2 separate regions of the Homo sapiens genome follow, and region 2 is linked to region 1. The links come from fine-mapping of genetic effects on gene expression. Tissue or cell type: whole blood. Region 1 holds a variant in brackets; the other region holds the start of a gene. All regions are shown on one strand. Distances are between the middles of the regions.

Region 1 (8,000 bases):
CAGCAGATGGCAGTAAAGTATCTTAAGGGGCCCCTTTCTGTACTTCTCAGTCTCTGAGCCAGCAACAGCAGCGGCCCTGGGAACCTCCTTTCATTTTTCTGGTTTATTTTGTTTGTTTTTTGGGTTTTTTGTTTGTTTGTTTGTTTGAGATGGAGTCTTGCTCTGTCACCCAGGCTGGAGTGCAGTGGTGCAATCTCGGCTCATTGCAACACCCACCTCTGGGGTTCAAGCAATTCTCCTGTCTCAGCCTCCCGAGTAGCTGGGACTACAGGTGCATGCCACCACGTGCAGCTAATTTTCATATTTTTAGTAGAGGTGGGGTTTCACAAAATTGGCCAGGCTGGTCTTGAACTCCTGACCTCAGGTTATCCAACCACCTCAGCCTCCCAAAGTGCTGGGATTACAGGTGTGAACCACTATACCAGACTTTTTTTTGTTTTTGAGATGGAGTTTCACATTTGTTGCCCAGGTTGGAGTGCAGTATCATGATCTGGGCTCACTGAAACCTCCATCTCCCAAGTTCAGGCGATTCTCCTGCCTCAGCCTCCCAAGTAGCTAGGATTACAGGCACCCACCACCACGCCCATCTAATTTTTTTGTATTTTTAGTAGAGACGGGTTTTCACCATGTTGCTCAGGCTGGTCTCAAACTCCTGACCTCAGATAATCCACCCACCTTGCCCTCCCAAAGTGCTGGGATTACAGGTGTGAGCCACCGTGCCCGGCCTTTTTGTTTTTTTTTTTTTTTTTTTTTGAGACAGGGTTCTTGCTCTGTCACCCAGGTTGGAGTGCAATGGCATGATTACGCTCACTGCAGCCTTGACCTCCTGGGGCTCAGGTGATCCTCCTGCCTCAGCCTCTTGAGTAGCTGGGACTGCACGCGTGTGCCATCATGCCTGGCTAATTTTTATATTTTTTGTAGAGATGGGGCTTCACCATGTTGCCCAGGCTGGTCTCAACTCCTGGGCTCAAGAGTTCCTCCCCGTCAGCCTCCCAAAGTGCTGGGATTACAGGTGTGAGCCACCGTGCCCAGCCCCTCAGTTTCTTCTTCTACAGTATGAGGATAGTAAGAGTCCCTGCCTCATGCAGTTTACGAGATACAAAGCCTGTCACACAATAAACCTCCATCTACACCATCTCCTATCACATCCAGTCCTGAGCGCTCCCCTTGGGAAACTTCCAACTGGTGGCCCAGCTGCCAGTACAGTTGCTGTTGAACAACACAGGCTTGAATTGCCTGGGGCAGCTTATACGCAGACAAGATCCTGGAGACAGCAAAACCAATTCCCTCCTCTTCGTCCTTCTACTCAATGTGAAGACAATGAGGATCAAGTCGTTTATGGTAATCTGCTTTCACCTAATGAATAGTAAATATATTTTCTCCTTTATGATTTTAACGTTTCTTTTCTCTAGCTCACTTTATTGTAAGAATACATATTATGTTATATAATACATATAACATATAAAATCTGTATTAATTGACTTTATGTTGTCCGAAAGGGTTCTGGTCAGCGGCATGTTATTAGTTAAGTTTTGGGGGAGTCAAAAGTTATACATGGCCAGGTGTGGTGGCTCACGCCTGTCATCCCAGCACTTTGGGAGGCTGAGGCGGGTGGATCGTTTGACCTCAGCAGTTCAAGACCAGCCTGGGAAACATGGCAAAACCCTGTCTCTACAAAAAATACAAAAATTAGCCAGGCATGGTGGTGCGCGCCTATAGTACCAGCTACTGGGGAGGATTGCTTGAGCCAGGAGGCTGAGGCTGCAGTGAGCCGAGATTGCACCACTGCACTCCAGCCTGGGCAACAGAGCGAGGCTCTGTCTCAACAACAACAACAGCAACAACAACATTCTATATGGATTTTCGATTGCATGGGGTTCGGTGCCCCTAACCCCTAAGTTGTTCAAGGGTCAACTGTATTTCCTCACTTCCATCTCTCTTTGCCTGGGACACCCTCTTTTTTCTCCTCCTGAGGAACCCTGTTCTTCCCATGCACAGCTTAAATACTTCCCCTTCTGTAAGAGTCACTCGAGTTAGTGTTTCCTTCAGTAATTTTGTTGATGCAGCTATTAGCGTTCACAGGTGTCTCCAGAACACGCCTGACTATCTCCTGGGTGAAGACGAGGCCTCCTTCTTTATCCCTCCCTTTACCCAAATACACTTTGCATAGATCAAGTGTAGTAAACCCTTTGGGAAGGTGGAGTTAGGAACTTGGAATTGCAGCTAATTCCAGATTTTGAATAAGTGCTTACCCTCCCCAAGAGATTCAGACCTATCCAATAAGGCTGCCTTTCAGCCCCCTTCTCAGCCACCCCATGTTTTCAAAGAGCAGCTAAGCAAATAACATGTATTCATATCAGTTTACTTTCCTGCCTTATGACAAATTGGAAATAAAAGCCAAAGCAAGGCTTCTCATGGTGCAGAGAGAACCAGAGTTGCTCTAAGTTGATTCTGAGCCAAGTTAGAAGAGAAAATTGGCCCTGGTGTTCCTTCTGCTATCTCAGCCACTCTCCGTTTATTAAGTGGGCTTTCTTTCCTTTTTTTTGAGACAGAGTTTCACTCTTGTTGCCCAGGCTGGAGTGCAGTGGCACAATCTCAGCTCACTGCAACCTCCACCTCCAGGGTTCAAGCGATTCTCCTGTCTCAGCCTCCCGAGTAGCTGGGATTACAGGCGCCTGCAATCACGTCTGGCTAATTTTTGTATTTTTAGTAGAGACGGGGTTTCACCATGTTGGTCAGGTGGTCTTGAACTCCTGACCTCAGGTGATCTGCCCGCCTTGGCCTCCCAAAGTGCTGGGATTACAGGTGTGAGCTACCATGCCTGGCCTTATTAACTGGGCTTTCTGAAATCATGAAAATAGTTCATGCCTTCACCTGCCATTTTGGTCACTCTAAACTTCAGGGCTTTGGGGATTCACTGGCTGGGAACCATGGCTGAACCAGAATGAATCAGGGGCTACCTTCTCCACTTCCCTAACCCTGAGTCTCGTTCCCTCTGCAGCCTCACCTGGTCCGAGCCTTGAAGTTCCTGATGAGTTGCTCCTTCTGGGCCCCCTTGCTCACCCAGAACTTGTGGGGGATGATGTAGCTGGAATGGACACGGCACTGTGGACACGCCCTGAGCAGTGGAGTAGAATGTGGGAGAATAGTCACAGGCCCCCAGGCCAGCCTCCTCACTGGGGTGTTTCCCTCCATCCCTGTTGGGACCCCCATGACACTGACTTGATGACATCCAGCGGGAAGTCCTGCCGGTTCTTCCGCCAGGTGCGCAGGCAGCCCAGACAGTGGGCATGGGTGCAGTTGGGCAGGATGCCGAAGACCCGCTGGGCCTCTGGCTTGTCCCACACTTTGTCCATGCAGATGCCACACACCACATCCCGACTGTCCTGCTTCCCAGGCAGCCACAGGTAGGGTCAGACACTCCACCCGCATGCCCACATTCAGCCTCAGTGGCCACCAAGCCCTCCCCCAGCAGATCTGGGTGTCCCAGAGGGCCAGAAAGCCATCTTTTGCCACCCCTCACCCACAACCTGCTGCACCTCAAGGTCCAGGCTCTGAAGTGGCGCCATGAGCTCTCGGACAAGGTGGAACTTTGGCAGAGACTCCTGGGAGTGGCCGTGATCCCTGTCAGCAGCTGTTGGGAAAACTGCATCCATTCACTCACCCCTGAGGCAACCACTGAGCATTTCCTGCATGCAAGACTCTGTGGTAACCCACGTCCTGCCCCCAAGTGGATTAGAGACCAGTCAGAATTAGAAGCCTCTCATATAGGCCAGGCTCGGTGGCTCATACCTGTAATCTCAGCACTTTGGGAGGCCGAGGTGGGTGGATCACCTGAGGTCAGGAGTTCAAGACCAGCCTGGCCAACATGGCGAAACCATCTCTAGTAAAAATACAGAAATTAGCCAGGTGTGGTGGCGAGTGCCTGTAATCTCAGCTACTCAGGAGGCTGAGGCAGGAGAATCGCCTGAACCCAGGAGGCGGAGGTTGCAGTGAGCTGAGATCATGCCATTGCACTCTAGCCTGGGCAACAGAGGGAGACTTCATTTCAAAAACAAAAAAAACAGACTGTAATCCCAGCACTTTGGGAGGCCAAGGCAGGCAGATCACGAGGCCAGGAGTTCGAGACCAGCCTGGCCAATATGGTGAAACCCTGTCTCTACTAAAAATTCAAAAATTAGCCAGTCGTGATGGCATGTGCCTATAGTCCCAGCTACTCAGGAGGCTGAGGCAGAAGAATCGCTTGAACCAGGAGGC[G/A]GAGGTTGCAGTGAGCCAAGATCGTGCCACTGCACTCCAGCCTGGGAGACAGAACGAGACTCTGACTCAAAAAAAAAAGAAGCCTCTCCTATAGCCATTTAGAAGAGTGCTGTTCAATACAGTAACCAAGAGCCATATGCGGCTCTTGAGCAACTGAAATGGGGCAAGTCTGAGTTGACACCTGCTATAAGTAGAAAATAGGGCCAGGCGCGGTAGCTCACGCCTGTAATCCCAAAACTTTGGGAGGCTAAGGTGGGTAGATCACTTGAGCTCAGGAGCTGGAGACCAGCCTGGACAACATGGCAAACTCTGTCTCTATCAAAAATAAAAAATAGGCCAGGCGCAGTGGGTCATGCCTGTAATCCCAGTACTTTGGGAGGCCGACGCGGGCGGATCACGAGGTCAGGAGATCAAGACCATCCTGGCTAACATGGTGAAACCCCGTTTCTACTAAAAAAATACAAAAAAAATGAGCCAGGTGTGGTGGTGGGCGCCTGTGGTCCCAGCTACTCGGGAGGCTGAGGCAGGAGAATGGCATGAACCCAGAAGGCGGAGCTTGCAGTGAGCCGAGATTGTGCCACTGCACTCCAGTCTGGGCGACAGAGTGAGACTCAGTCTCAAAAAAAAAAAAAAAAAAAAAAGATGAAGTACTGATACGTGCTACAACATGGACGAACCTAGAAAACTTCACACTCAATGAAAGCAGCCAGACACAAAAGGCCACATATTGTAAGATTCCGTTCATATGAAAAGTCCAGAACAGCCAAACCACAGAGACAGAATGTGGATTAGTGGATACTAGAGGCTGGGAGCGGGGAGGATGAAACTGACTGCTAATGGGATGATAAAAATGTTCTAAAATTGGGTAGCAGTGATGTTTGCATAACTTTGTGAATTAACGCATTGAATTGTATAAATTGATGAATTTTTTGGTTTGTGAATATTTCAATAAAGCTGTTATAAAAAATTACATATGTGACTTAAATTTCTTTATATTCTGAATAACATTGATTTAGAGCAATAATTTAAAAAATAGCCAGGCCGGGCACGGTGGCTCACGCCTGTAATCCCAGCACTTTGGGAGGCCAAGTCAGGCGGATCACGAGGTCAGGAGTTCGAGATGAGCCTGACCAACACAGTGAAACCTCGTCTCTATTAAAAATACAAAAATTAGCTGGGCATGGTGGTGCATGCCTGTAATCTCAGCTACTCGGGAGGCTGAGGCAGGAGAATCGCTTGAACCCTGGAGGCGGAGGTTGCAGTGAGCTGAGATAGCGTCACTGTACTCTAGCCTGGGTGACAGAGGGAGACCCTGTCTCAAATAAATAAATAAATAAAATAAAAAATAGCCACTAACATTTAGTGCATACTCTGTACCAGGTACTGTGCTAAGCATATCAACCCTCAAAATAAGCCTGTGAGTTAAGTATTATTATCAATGCCGTTTTGTAGATGAGGGAACCAAGGCCCAGAGAGGTTAAGTGACTTGTCCAAGATCACACAGCTACTGGGTATAGGGATAGGGCATTTGGAACTAGGGGGTTTTACTCTGTTGGTACCATGGTATTCTGCTTTTAGAACACACAAAGCAACAGAACTAGAGGAAAATTTCCCTCCAGCTGGGAATCTTGAAGAGGAAGGGGAATGGATGAAAACATAAACCCTGCTCAGAGGCAGAGCACGAGCTCTAGTGTCAGTGCCCACTTATGCCCACCTGCGGTGCCCCTGATGACTCACATGATGAAGGCAGGGACTTCCAGGAGCTGCCGCCAACCTCCTCAGCCTTGCTAGCCAGCCCCTCCAGGGCAGGCTCCATGCCCCAGCAGGCCCTGGCCCAGCCCCAGCCCACAGCCACAGAGGGCAGGTAGGTGGGCTCGGATCCCCTGCGGGCCAGTCCTAGGTGGGGCCCTGGCAGAGTGACATGTGGCTCCGAATGGCGGCGACCCCACTCCAGGGGGCTGGGGGTCTTTGGGTGCTGACAGCTGTAGTGGGGAAGAAGAGAGTGAGGAGACAGGGACAGCCCTCCGGGGCTCAGAGCCAGCTCAGCCTAGAACTTGGAGCTGAGTTGGGAGAAGCAGCTCTGGGAAGATACATGATTTGTGAAGGGACGATCTCTCTAGTGTCCCACCCTAACACCACTCCCCAGAGGGGAAGAAGAGGGACTTACCTGCATTGATCTCCACGATGTCCAGGGAAGCAGAAGCCTTGCTGGAAGTACTTGCAGACCTGGGACACCTTTCCATCATGAGCAAAGCGATGCCTTGACCCCCAGCGATGGGCCCGGAAAACAAAGTTCCTAAGAGATTGTCTAAGTCATGCCCAGCCCTGTTTTAGTTCCTGCCTTTGTGATCCTTACAGACAGAGGCTGTCTGATACGGTGAGAACAACACAGGCTCTGGAATTCATCTGGTGTTCAAATCCTGACCCCACTGGGAACACTAGGTGAGTAACTCACCTTCTCTAAAGCTTGGTTTCCTCACTCTTAAGAGTGGGGTAACAGGCTGGATGCGGTGGCTCATGCCCATAATCCCAGCACTATGGCAGGCACAGGCAGGCAGATCACCTGAGGTCAGGAGTTCAAGACCAGCCTGGCCAACATATTGAAACACTGTCTCTACTAAAAATACAAAAATCAGCCAGGCATGATGGCAGGCACCTTGGGCTACTCAGGAGGCTGAGGCAGGAGAATTGCTTGAACCTGGGAGGTGGAGGTTGCAGTGAGCCGAGATCACACCACTGCACTCTAGCCCAGTCAACAAGGGTGAAACTCCATCTCAAAATAAAAAAAGGGGGGGTGGGTGGTAACAATGCCTAGCCCTTGCTGAGTTGTTGTAAAGGTTTTTAAGATTTTTCACAATCAGCCTGGCCTGGTGGCTTACACCTGTAATCCCAGCACTTTGGGAGGCTGAGGCGGGCAGATCACCTGAGGTCGGGAGTTCGAGACCAGCCTGACCACATGGAGAAAGCCCATCTCTACTAAAAATACAAAATTAGCCGGGTGTGGTGGCACATGCCTGTAATCCCAGCTACTTGGGAGGCTGAGGCAGGAGAATAGCTTGAACCCAGGAGGCAGAGATTGCGGTGAACTGAGACTGTGCCATTGCACTCCAGCCTGGGCGACAAGAGCAAAACTCCATCTCAAAAAAAAAAAAAAAAAAGATTTTGCACAATGCATATAGCAGGTGCTTGGTGATCACAGTGATCACTATTACTCTCCCCAAAAGTAGAGTTGTGGATTCTGGAGTCAGAATTCTAGGTTCACATTCTACCACCAGGACTGGCTTCACCAGTGGGGACCTATACAATCACACAGGGGCCCTACACTTGCATTAATACTCTGCTGTCCCGGTCTTGAAATTATTAATAGTTTTTGAGCCCCACATTTTCATTTTGCAATGGGTCCCACAAATTATATAGCCAGTTCTGCCTAGTAACACTACTTTTTGGTTACGTAAGCTTGGACAAGTCACCTAACTTTTCCATGCCTCAGTTTTCTCATTCGTAAAATGGGGATAATAGTAGGACCTACTTCCTGGGGTGATGTCAAACTTAAGACCCTGTCTGTAAAGTCCCTGGCCCATAGCAAGCCCTGGGTAAATGACAGCTGTTGCCATCACTTCTCTTATCACTTCCCCTCTCCCGCCCCCTTTCCCTCCTCCTCTGAGGAATCAAGGTGGGAGGTAGAGAAGGGTGAGGGGAGGATGAGGTGGGCAAGCATTTAGTGAGAGTCTCCTCAGTGTCCA
Region 2 (8,000 bases), 51 kb before region 1:
CCCTTGCCATTTTCCAGCCCTCCGCTTTGACATCCCAGAGACAAAGCCCCATTCTCACAGATGTGAACCCTGTCCACAAGGATGCCACAGATGCCAAGCCTATTCTCAGATACCCTAATGGATGAAGATGTCCAGGCCACACCCCTGTGCACACATGCCCAGGCCCCTTCTCCGGTCAGTCCTGAGCCATCTCAGCCATCTCTAACTGTCCTCTCCCTGTCTACTCCCCTGGGGCACCCCAGGCTAGTGACGGCCTGCTGGTGCGCTGGCAGAACAAGACGCTGGAGAGCCTCATAGAACTGCACAACAAGCCACCTGTCTGGAACGATGACAGTGGCTCCTACACCCTCAACTTCCAAGGCCGGGTCACCCAGGCCTCAGTCAAGAACTTCCAGATTGTCCACGCTGATGACCGTGAGTACCTGAGGGCCCAGGTCTGGCTCTTCTCCACCACCCCCAGGATGCTGACCTTCATTCAAGCTCCCCTCACCCCCTCACACACACACACACCAGCCTTTATCCCGAGAGCTGGGACATCCCACAGGGTCACTCTCTCCTCCATAGGCACTGACACTGTGCTCTCAGGAGCCTCAGATATTCTAAGCAGGTGTCTTGGGGCTCATCACTTCAGGTTCCCATTCCAGCATTGGCCAGAGCAGTGGGTTAGATACTGGGACATTCTGGATAAGATTGTGTTGAAGGGAGGGTTGGCTCCTAGAGTCTGAAAACCACGGACAGCCCAACTCCTCTTTGTTCAAAGAGAGTGCTGAGGCTCAGAGAGGGCAGCCCTTTGCCCAGAGTCTCTCAGCAACTTCAGGAAGTTACACTGGCCCTCGAAATTTATTTCACAAAACTTACACAGTGTTTACTATGTGCCAGGCACTGTTCTCAGGATTTTACAGATAACTGAATCATTAAATCCCTTCAACGTCCCTGTGAAGAGTGCCATTATTATCCCTATTTGGCAGGAAACTAAGGCACAGAGAGGTTAAGCAACTTGCCCACGGTCACATCACTAGTAGGAGGTAGAGCTGACAGTCTGGATCTCCAGTGGCCATGCTCTTAATCTCTTCAAGATGGTTGCCTTTTAGGGGCAGGGAATATTAAGCATTTTTGAGTGCCTACTCTGTGTCTTCTCTCAAGTGAGGTCAAAGGACTACCCTGGAAGACTCAGGGAAACAAGGTGTCCCTGTTACAAGCCTTGGTTGGAAAGGCTTCCTTCCCACTAGGGTGAGGAAGTTTGGGGATGGAAGGGTATCTCCCATAAGTCTCTGGGTTCACAGGGTTGGACCAACATTGAGCGAGCCCCAACTGCATCCTAGGGATGTGCCCCCAGTGCCACCTGTCCTGTGGCTGTGGGACTGCTCTCCAGATCACGTTTCTGGTGGAGCCTCGTCCACCTGAGTTTGGGGGTATTTTTAGCAACTTCCTGTCCCTATGGATCCTGGGGGAGGTGCTGAGGTTGGGGCTGGGAACCTGGATCATTGAAGGGAGAGGTGCCCAGTGAGGCTGAGGAAGGGAACCAGGGGCTAGTCAAGGGGTGGAGCTGGGGTCTAAGGTGGGACTTCGTGGCTGGGGATAGGAGGAAAGACTGTGGCCAGAAACAACAGAGAATTTGGGAAGGAAGAATGCTGGGCTTGGATAAATTTGACAGGGTCCTATAGTTAATCAGGTGCGGGCTCTAGGCATGGCCTGTGGCAGCAGCAGAAAGGCAAGGTCCCTGCCCCCAGGAGATTATAGTGTGACTGCAAAGCCACGTGGTGCTGGTGTGGAGTGAGATAGAAGAAGGGATGGGTGTTGAGTAACTGAGATGGTGGCTGAGGGTTGGAGCCCCAAGGCAAGGGACAGACTGCCCCCAAGGTTGAGGGCACTGTCTGCCAGGATGGGGGTCCAAGGAGGTCTCGGGCCGCCCCCACCCCGTCTTGTGTCCATAGCCGACTATATCGTGCTGCAGTTCGGCCGCGTGGCGGAGGACGCCTTCACCCTAGACTACCGGTACCCGCTGTGCGCCCTGCAGGCCTTCGCCATCGCCCTCTCCAGTTTCGACGGGAAGCTGGCCTGCGAGTGACCCCAGCAGCCCCTCAGCGCCCCCAGAGCCCGTCAGCGTGGGGGAAAGGATTCAGTGGAGGCTGGCAGGGTCCCTCCAGCAAAGCTCCCGCGGAAAACTGCTCCTGTGTCGGGGCTGACCTCTCACTGCCTCTCGGTGACCTCCGTCCTCTCCCCAGCCTGGCACAGGCCGAGGCAGGAGGAGCCCGGACGGCGGGTAGGACGGAGATGAAGAACATCTGGAGTTGGAGCCGCACATCTGGTCTCGGAGCTCGCCTGCGCCGCTGTGCCCCCCTCCTCCCCGCGCCCCAGTCACTTCCTGTCCGGGAGCAGTAGTCATTGTTGTTTTAACCTCCCCTCTCCCCGGGACCGCGCTAGGGCTCCGAGGAGCTGGGGCGGGCTAGGAGGAGGGGGTAGGTGATGGGGGACGAGGGCCAGGCACCCACATCCCCAATAAAGCCGCGTCCTTGGCCAAGCGGAGCGGTGGTTCCTCAGCGCGTGCGGAGAACGAGGCGGCAGGAGGCGTCCGAGGCGCGAGCTGGAAGTCTCAACCCCCGTCCCACTCCTGCCCAGGCCCCGGGCGCTCCCGCGTCCCCTCCCCGCGCCCGTCGCGGGTCCTACCGAAACTCGGCGGCCGCACAGCGTCGAGACGCCCCCCGTGGGGGCCCGGGGAGCCGGGGCGAAAGGGAGGGTCCCGGAGGTCGGGGAAGAGGGAGAAAGGGAGAAGAAATTCGAGAAACTAGCCACGCGGGGAGAACCAGACAAACCGGGTCCCGGCAGGGCGGGCGCAGCCGCCAGGGCGGAGCCGGGTCTGGGGCCCCGGGAGTGGGGGGCAGGCCCGCGAGCTGGAGGGTACGCTCCGCCTTGGCGGCTCGGGACTAGGGTGGAGGGGCCGGGAGCCCCGGGGCCCGTGCGCTCCGGCTCTGCCGGGCTCCTCGTGACGCGGCACCCACGGCCCCCGGCACCGACGGGAGCCCTGCCCGCGAGGCGAGGGCTCCGCCCTCGGCCCCGCCCCAGGCCGGAGCCCCAAATTCCGGCGGGTGCCCGGGAGCGGGGCGAGGCCCGGAGCGCAGGGGGAGGAAGGCAGCTCCGCACGGGCGGGCGAGGAGCGGGGCGCCCAGGCGCGCGCCAGCCGGGGTGGCCGGGTCGCGAGGCCGCGGGGTAGGCGGCCCGAGCGCGGCTGGACGGCCCCGCCCCTCCCGGCCAGCACCGCCCCCTGCGCGCCCCGCCCCCTCCTTCCCGCAGCCCCCACCCCCGCCCCGGCTCCTCAACACAAACTTTCCGTCCCGCTCGCTCCCTCCTCCGCGCTCGGCGCCTCCCGCTCCAGCCCGGCTCATTCCGCACATTCCGGCCAGCCCCCTCCCCACGACCCCCCTTCCCCGGCCCCCCTTGCGGCTCCCTCGGGCCCGGCGGAGCGGCCCGGCCGGAGCGCCCCCGCGAGCTCGGACCAGGTAAGCCGGGCGGACGCCGGGAGGAGGCCCCGCTCGGGAGAGGTGGTTTGGTTGGTCGGCTGGGCTGGCTGGGGGGGCGACACTCGAGGGGGACTGGGTCCCCGAGCTATTGTCCAGCCGGAGCTGGAGCCCCGGATCGGGGTGCCGGGAAGTTTAGAGGGAAGGGGGAAAATCTCTCCGGGAAGCCCCGCCCCCCGCCCTCCCCACCCCCCCGCGACGGGGACGAGTTGGTCCGGGAAGGTGGGGAAGCCGGGGAGACCGTGTCCCCTGTGCCGTCGCCTGTCCCGCCGTCCGTGCTTGGGGGGTCGGGGCGGGGATCCGGGGGCCGCACAGTGTGGAGGGCCTGCCTGCCACCCTGGAGCTCATATCCGGGGCGCCCAGTCCCGGGCCCCGCCGCCCTTTGGACTCCCGGCCCGCGCGCTCCCGGAGCCCGCCCGGCCTCAGCTCCACGCAGGCCTCGGGCCCGGCCTCCCAGCGCCCAGGCCGGTTTCTGCGCGCGGTGCCGCGGCTGCGCTGGGTTGTGGAGGGTGTCTGGGACCAAAGCCGCGCGCCCCGGCCGTGTGTCCCCTGAGAGGCAGGGAGGGGCTCACGTTCCCTTCAGTTCTGCCGCCTGCGTCGGGGTGCTGATTCAGAGTTCCAGCCCTGAGCGCTGTGAGCTTGGCTCGGAGGGGTCTGGATTTGGGGCCTTTTCTTCCCCACACTTGCTCAGGGCCCTTGTTTAGACTTGACAAGGTTTGAGGGTGGCTGGTCTCCCGCTTCCTACCCCGGTCCCCACCATTGTCTGTCATGCCCTTTATTCCTGCTAGGGGAGGGAGGGCTGGGAGCGCTGGTCTGGATCTGTTTTCCAGCCCAGCTGGGCCCTGGGGCAGTGTCATTGAGACCCCGCTCTGTCAACTTTCCTGGTGAGGGGCCCTGATCCAGGGCTGAGAGATTCTTTCAGTGCGAGGGGGAAGGAGGCCTTGGGGCGGACTTCTCAGGGGCTGTCTTCTTCTGTGTCTTCCCTCTTTCCAGGTAGGGGCAGAACCAGGTCAGGCCTGGACTTGTTGTCCGGAAGAACAGGGCATAGGGGTAGGGGCTGGACACAGCTCAGAGGGGCTGGTGCCCATAGCGGCTCTGCGTATCCAGTCTCTTGTGGCCTGGTTCTCTGTACACATGTTCCACCCCAGTGCTGGGGCCACCTGGGGCAAGGAGGGGAGGCTTTCCTCAAAAGTTGGAGATTTGGGGGAATTATGTCCTCTCCCTTCTAGACTCCTGTAGCCCCCCTCCCACCAAGACCCCTCTCGTAGGGGCACTCCCTAAAGGATGTGGTTCTGTGGTCTTCTGGGTCCCTGCTCACCCAGTGGGCAGAGTGCACAGATCTTCCAGGACAAGGCTGTCCAGTAAGGGTAACTTCAGGGGCCCTGGATGCCCCCTCCTCAGGGAGAGGGTAGGAGCCAGTATGAGTCCCAAGCTCTTGGGCCTTCCCCTACCCCCCCAGGGAGGGAACGTCATTAATGCTAATGAGCGCATCTGGGCTGGGGAATGGCTTGTTAGAGTGGTCAGTGGTTGCCAGGACAGAGCAGCACATTAAGTGTACAGAAGCATCACATGGGTCCTGAGCCCTGCTCCCATCCTCACCCAAAGGTTTGTAGACCCTGGCACTTTCTGCCAACTGAAGGAATGTTAAAACCGGGAGGATTTGATATTCTCAACAATATCAAAGGAGAAGATATCTCAACAGAGGTGGTCAAGAAATAGGGATCTGGTCCCCTCCGGACCTTTAACCAGTTGCGCCATCTTGGCAGGCCCCTTTGGGCCTCAGTTTCCCTGCTTGGAATGAATGACTTCTCAAGTCCCTTTTCTCTGAGCTCCTCCCAGAGTCTGTCTCCCAGTTTGCCTTCCTTCTCCCATGATGGAACCTGAACTTGGTGGGGTCTGGAGAGGCGGGTGGGTGATCCAGTGGCCCAAAGAAGAAGGCAAGGACAAACCAAGGGGTGACTGAGGAGTAGCTCAGCCAGATGAACAGGGCTGAAAAGGTGGCGGGGGGCAGGTGTCAAGGGACAGGGGGGCTTGGTGGATTGGGGGATCTTGCCTCTGAAGTGGTCATGGGTTCTGTTAGGGCTGAATGGCACAAAGGGTGCTCAGAGGCCGCTTGGGTGGCTCTACCCTCTGCCCCACTCCCAGACACCTGTGGGGGTCCCAGGGCTCAGTGTGGAAATCGCTGGTCCTGCCCTCCTCCTCCTCCCCGCCCAGGATGGGGAGAGGAGCCCAGGGGTCTAAACGCTGCAGCTTTCTGTGAAGGGGCTAGGAGGTCGCAGCCTCTTCTTCCCACATGGGGGCTGCAGAAGCTGTGGGGTCCCAGGGGTGGCCCTGAGGATCTGCCTCTGGGTAGAGCTGGGGAGGTCAGCAGGTCACACTCGGCACTGTCCCTGGGGCCTTGCCCTGCCTTCCCTCCCCTCCCCTCCTGGTGTTGTGCCAGCCCTGGGCTGTCTGCAGAAGGGGCCACTTCCCTCCAGGGAGAACCCTGCCAGGGAAAGGGCTCTGCCTGTCTTCCCCGACCCACAGGAGGTTGAGGTTAGGGCCAGAGAGGTTCATCCCCCTGCACATCCCTAAAGCCTCAGCCCTTGGGGTTTCCTAGAGTGCCGATTGTTTCCTGTGCTCCCTGCCAGGCCTGAAAGGGCAGGAAGTGTTAGAGGGAAATGAGAATGCAACTGTGTGTGACGCTGGATGTGTGTGAGAGAAGCCATGAGTGGGACATTCTATGTGGGTGAGACTTGTCTTCTGTGGGGCTGGATGTGTGTGGAAGAGAACCTTGGTCAGAGCAACTTGTGCAGGGCTGGGTGTATGCAGGAGAGAAACTGTGGCTTTGTGACATTCGTGTGTGTGACAGATATACACGTCCATAAGAGAAACTGGGTGACTCTTCATGTGTCCAGGTGTGCCGCCACCTCTGTACCTGAGAACCTGCATGGGGGATGTTCTGTGTGTGCCAGGGCATCACCCAGGATGTGCCGATGAAGGAAGCTGGCTGCCTAGCCATCTGTGTGTACCTGGAGATGACACTGGGTGTGGCTCTGATGCTCAAGTGACCTGCGTGTGAAGGACACCGCACTCGCACGATGCTGTGTGTATGTGAGCGCGCGGGCGCGTGTGCGTGAGAAGCCGGATGAGTGGCGATCTGTGTGATGTGTTACGCTGTGGTGTGACCACTTGTGACCTGCATGTTGTGACGCAGCATGTGAGATGGCCTCAGGTTTGTCTGTGTGTGACTTACATGTGACACTACATGCGAGTAAAACAACATGACCAGCTCTGTGTCAGTATGATGTGTGTACCAGCAAGGTGGGCCCCATCCGACATGTGCCAAGCATGAATATGGTATGCGGTGTGTGGGTGACACTGAGCACCAGAAAGCGACACCGTATGTGAGAGAAACCGTGGGGCGTGACTGATGCTGGCGCTGTGGGTGGGTGGTCACTATCTGAGCGTGTTTGGGACTCTCGGGTAGTGTGGGTGACACCCCCAGGGCTGTGCCAGGCAGGGCGTGTAGGAGGCTCTGTGGGATGCTTTTGGGGGCCTGTGGTCCCTGACGTGTGGCATCTATGTGGAAGACAATGAGAAAGACACTGATAAAAACAAAGAAGGAATGTAATTAATGCCTCTCAATTGTACACTTAGAAATGGCTAAAATGGTAAACTTGATGTTATGTATATTTTATCACAATAAAGACATTTTTAAAAACCCAGCAGGAGAGAGATGCGGGTAACAGTGAATGAGCAGGACAGTGGCTGTGACGCAACTGTGTATGCGAGCGAGAGGAAGGGCGCAGAGGAAACCTATTTGTTCTTAGATGACACCGTGACTCTCATGAGGGCACTGACTGAGTGGCTGGTGGGAGCCCAGTGGGCGACCCAGAGTACCAGGAGTCTGGCATGGTAACTGAGAACTGAGAAACCCAGTGACCCCCTATAGTCTGTCTCTCACTGGATACCTGAGATTCCCACCCTGGGACCAGGACAAGATGAGGAGATAAGTCAGTCCCAGGGAGGGGGTGAAGGGAGGTCTGGAAACTGGGCCCTTCTCTCTACAGGGGACTTGAGGGCTGAGTCTCCACCCTCCTACCCGCTATACTGCTTCAGGGAGCAGGAGCGTGACAACAGATGAGATGAGCTTTGCAGAAGGAGGCCTGGGGGGACTATCCCAACCCCCTCTGCTCCCTGAGAAAGCCCCTTTCCCAAGTAGTGTGGGGAGGAGGGGCAGAGAATCTCCAGTCCCAAATTGGAAGCACATTAATAAGCAGGGCGGGGGGTGGGGAGAGAGTGGAGGGGCCCCCACCTCCCTCCTAGTGGGCTCTGCAAATTGCTTCCTCCTGTAAAAATTGAGACCCTGTTCCAGGAAGGAGGGAAGCCCTCCCCAGCCTGGCAGGGTGTGGCTGCTTGGCAGGGTCCCTCCGGGGTCCTTGGGCTGGAGGTGGGGGAGACAGATACATCCCTACTTGCTCTGCTGCCCCAGAGCATGGCTAC

What was found. PIP is the estimated chance that this variant, and not a neighbour inherited with it, causes the effect.
Region 2: TEAD3 starts here. The variant in region 1 is fine-mapped to the expression of TEAD3 in whole blood (TOPMed, PIP above 0.99).

Annotation. Positions count from the first base shown.
Region 1 is chr6:35,441,597-35,449,596 of GRCh38, reverse strand. It overlaps the pseudogene MKRN6P. Among named protein-coding and RNA genes, the nearest start is that of FANCE, 6.7 kb to the left of the region's middle. The variant G/A (reference allele first, on the strand shown) is at 4,258.
Region 2 is chr6:35,492,395-35,500,394 of GRCh38, reverse strand. TEAD3 (TEA domain transcription factor 3) reads left to right here and starts at 3,316. Exons shown (of 13, transcript NM_003214.4): 1 at 3,316-3,497. TULP1 (TUB like protein 1) reads left to right here. Exons shown (of 15, transcript NM_003322.6): 14 at 243-414; 15 at 1,935-2,521. The coding sequence ends at 2,068. LOC124901309 (a long non-coding RNA gene) reads right to left here and starts at 2,262. Exons shown (of 2, transcript XR_007059561.1): 1 at 2,188-2,262. RefSeq lists enhancers at 1,480-2,409, 2,410-3,340, 4,287-5,072, 7,498-8,000, 7,569-8,000 and silencers at 2,809-3,138, 3,149-3,278, 3,459-3,508.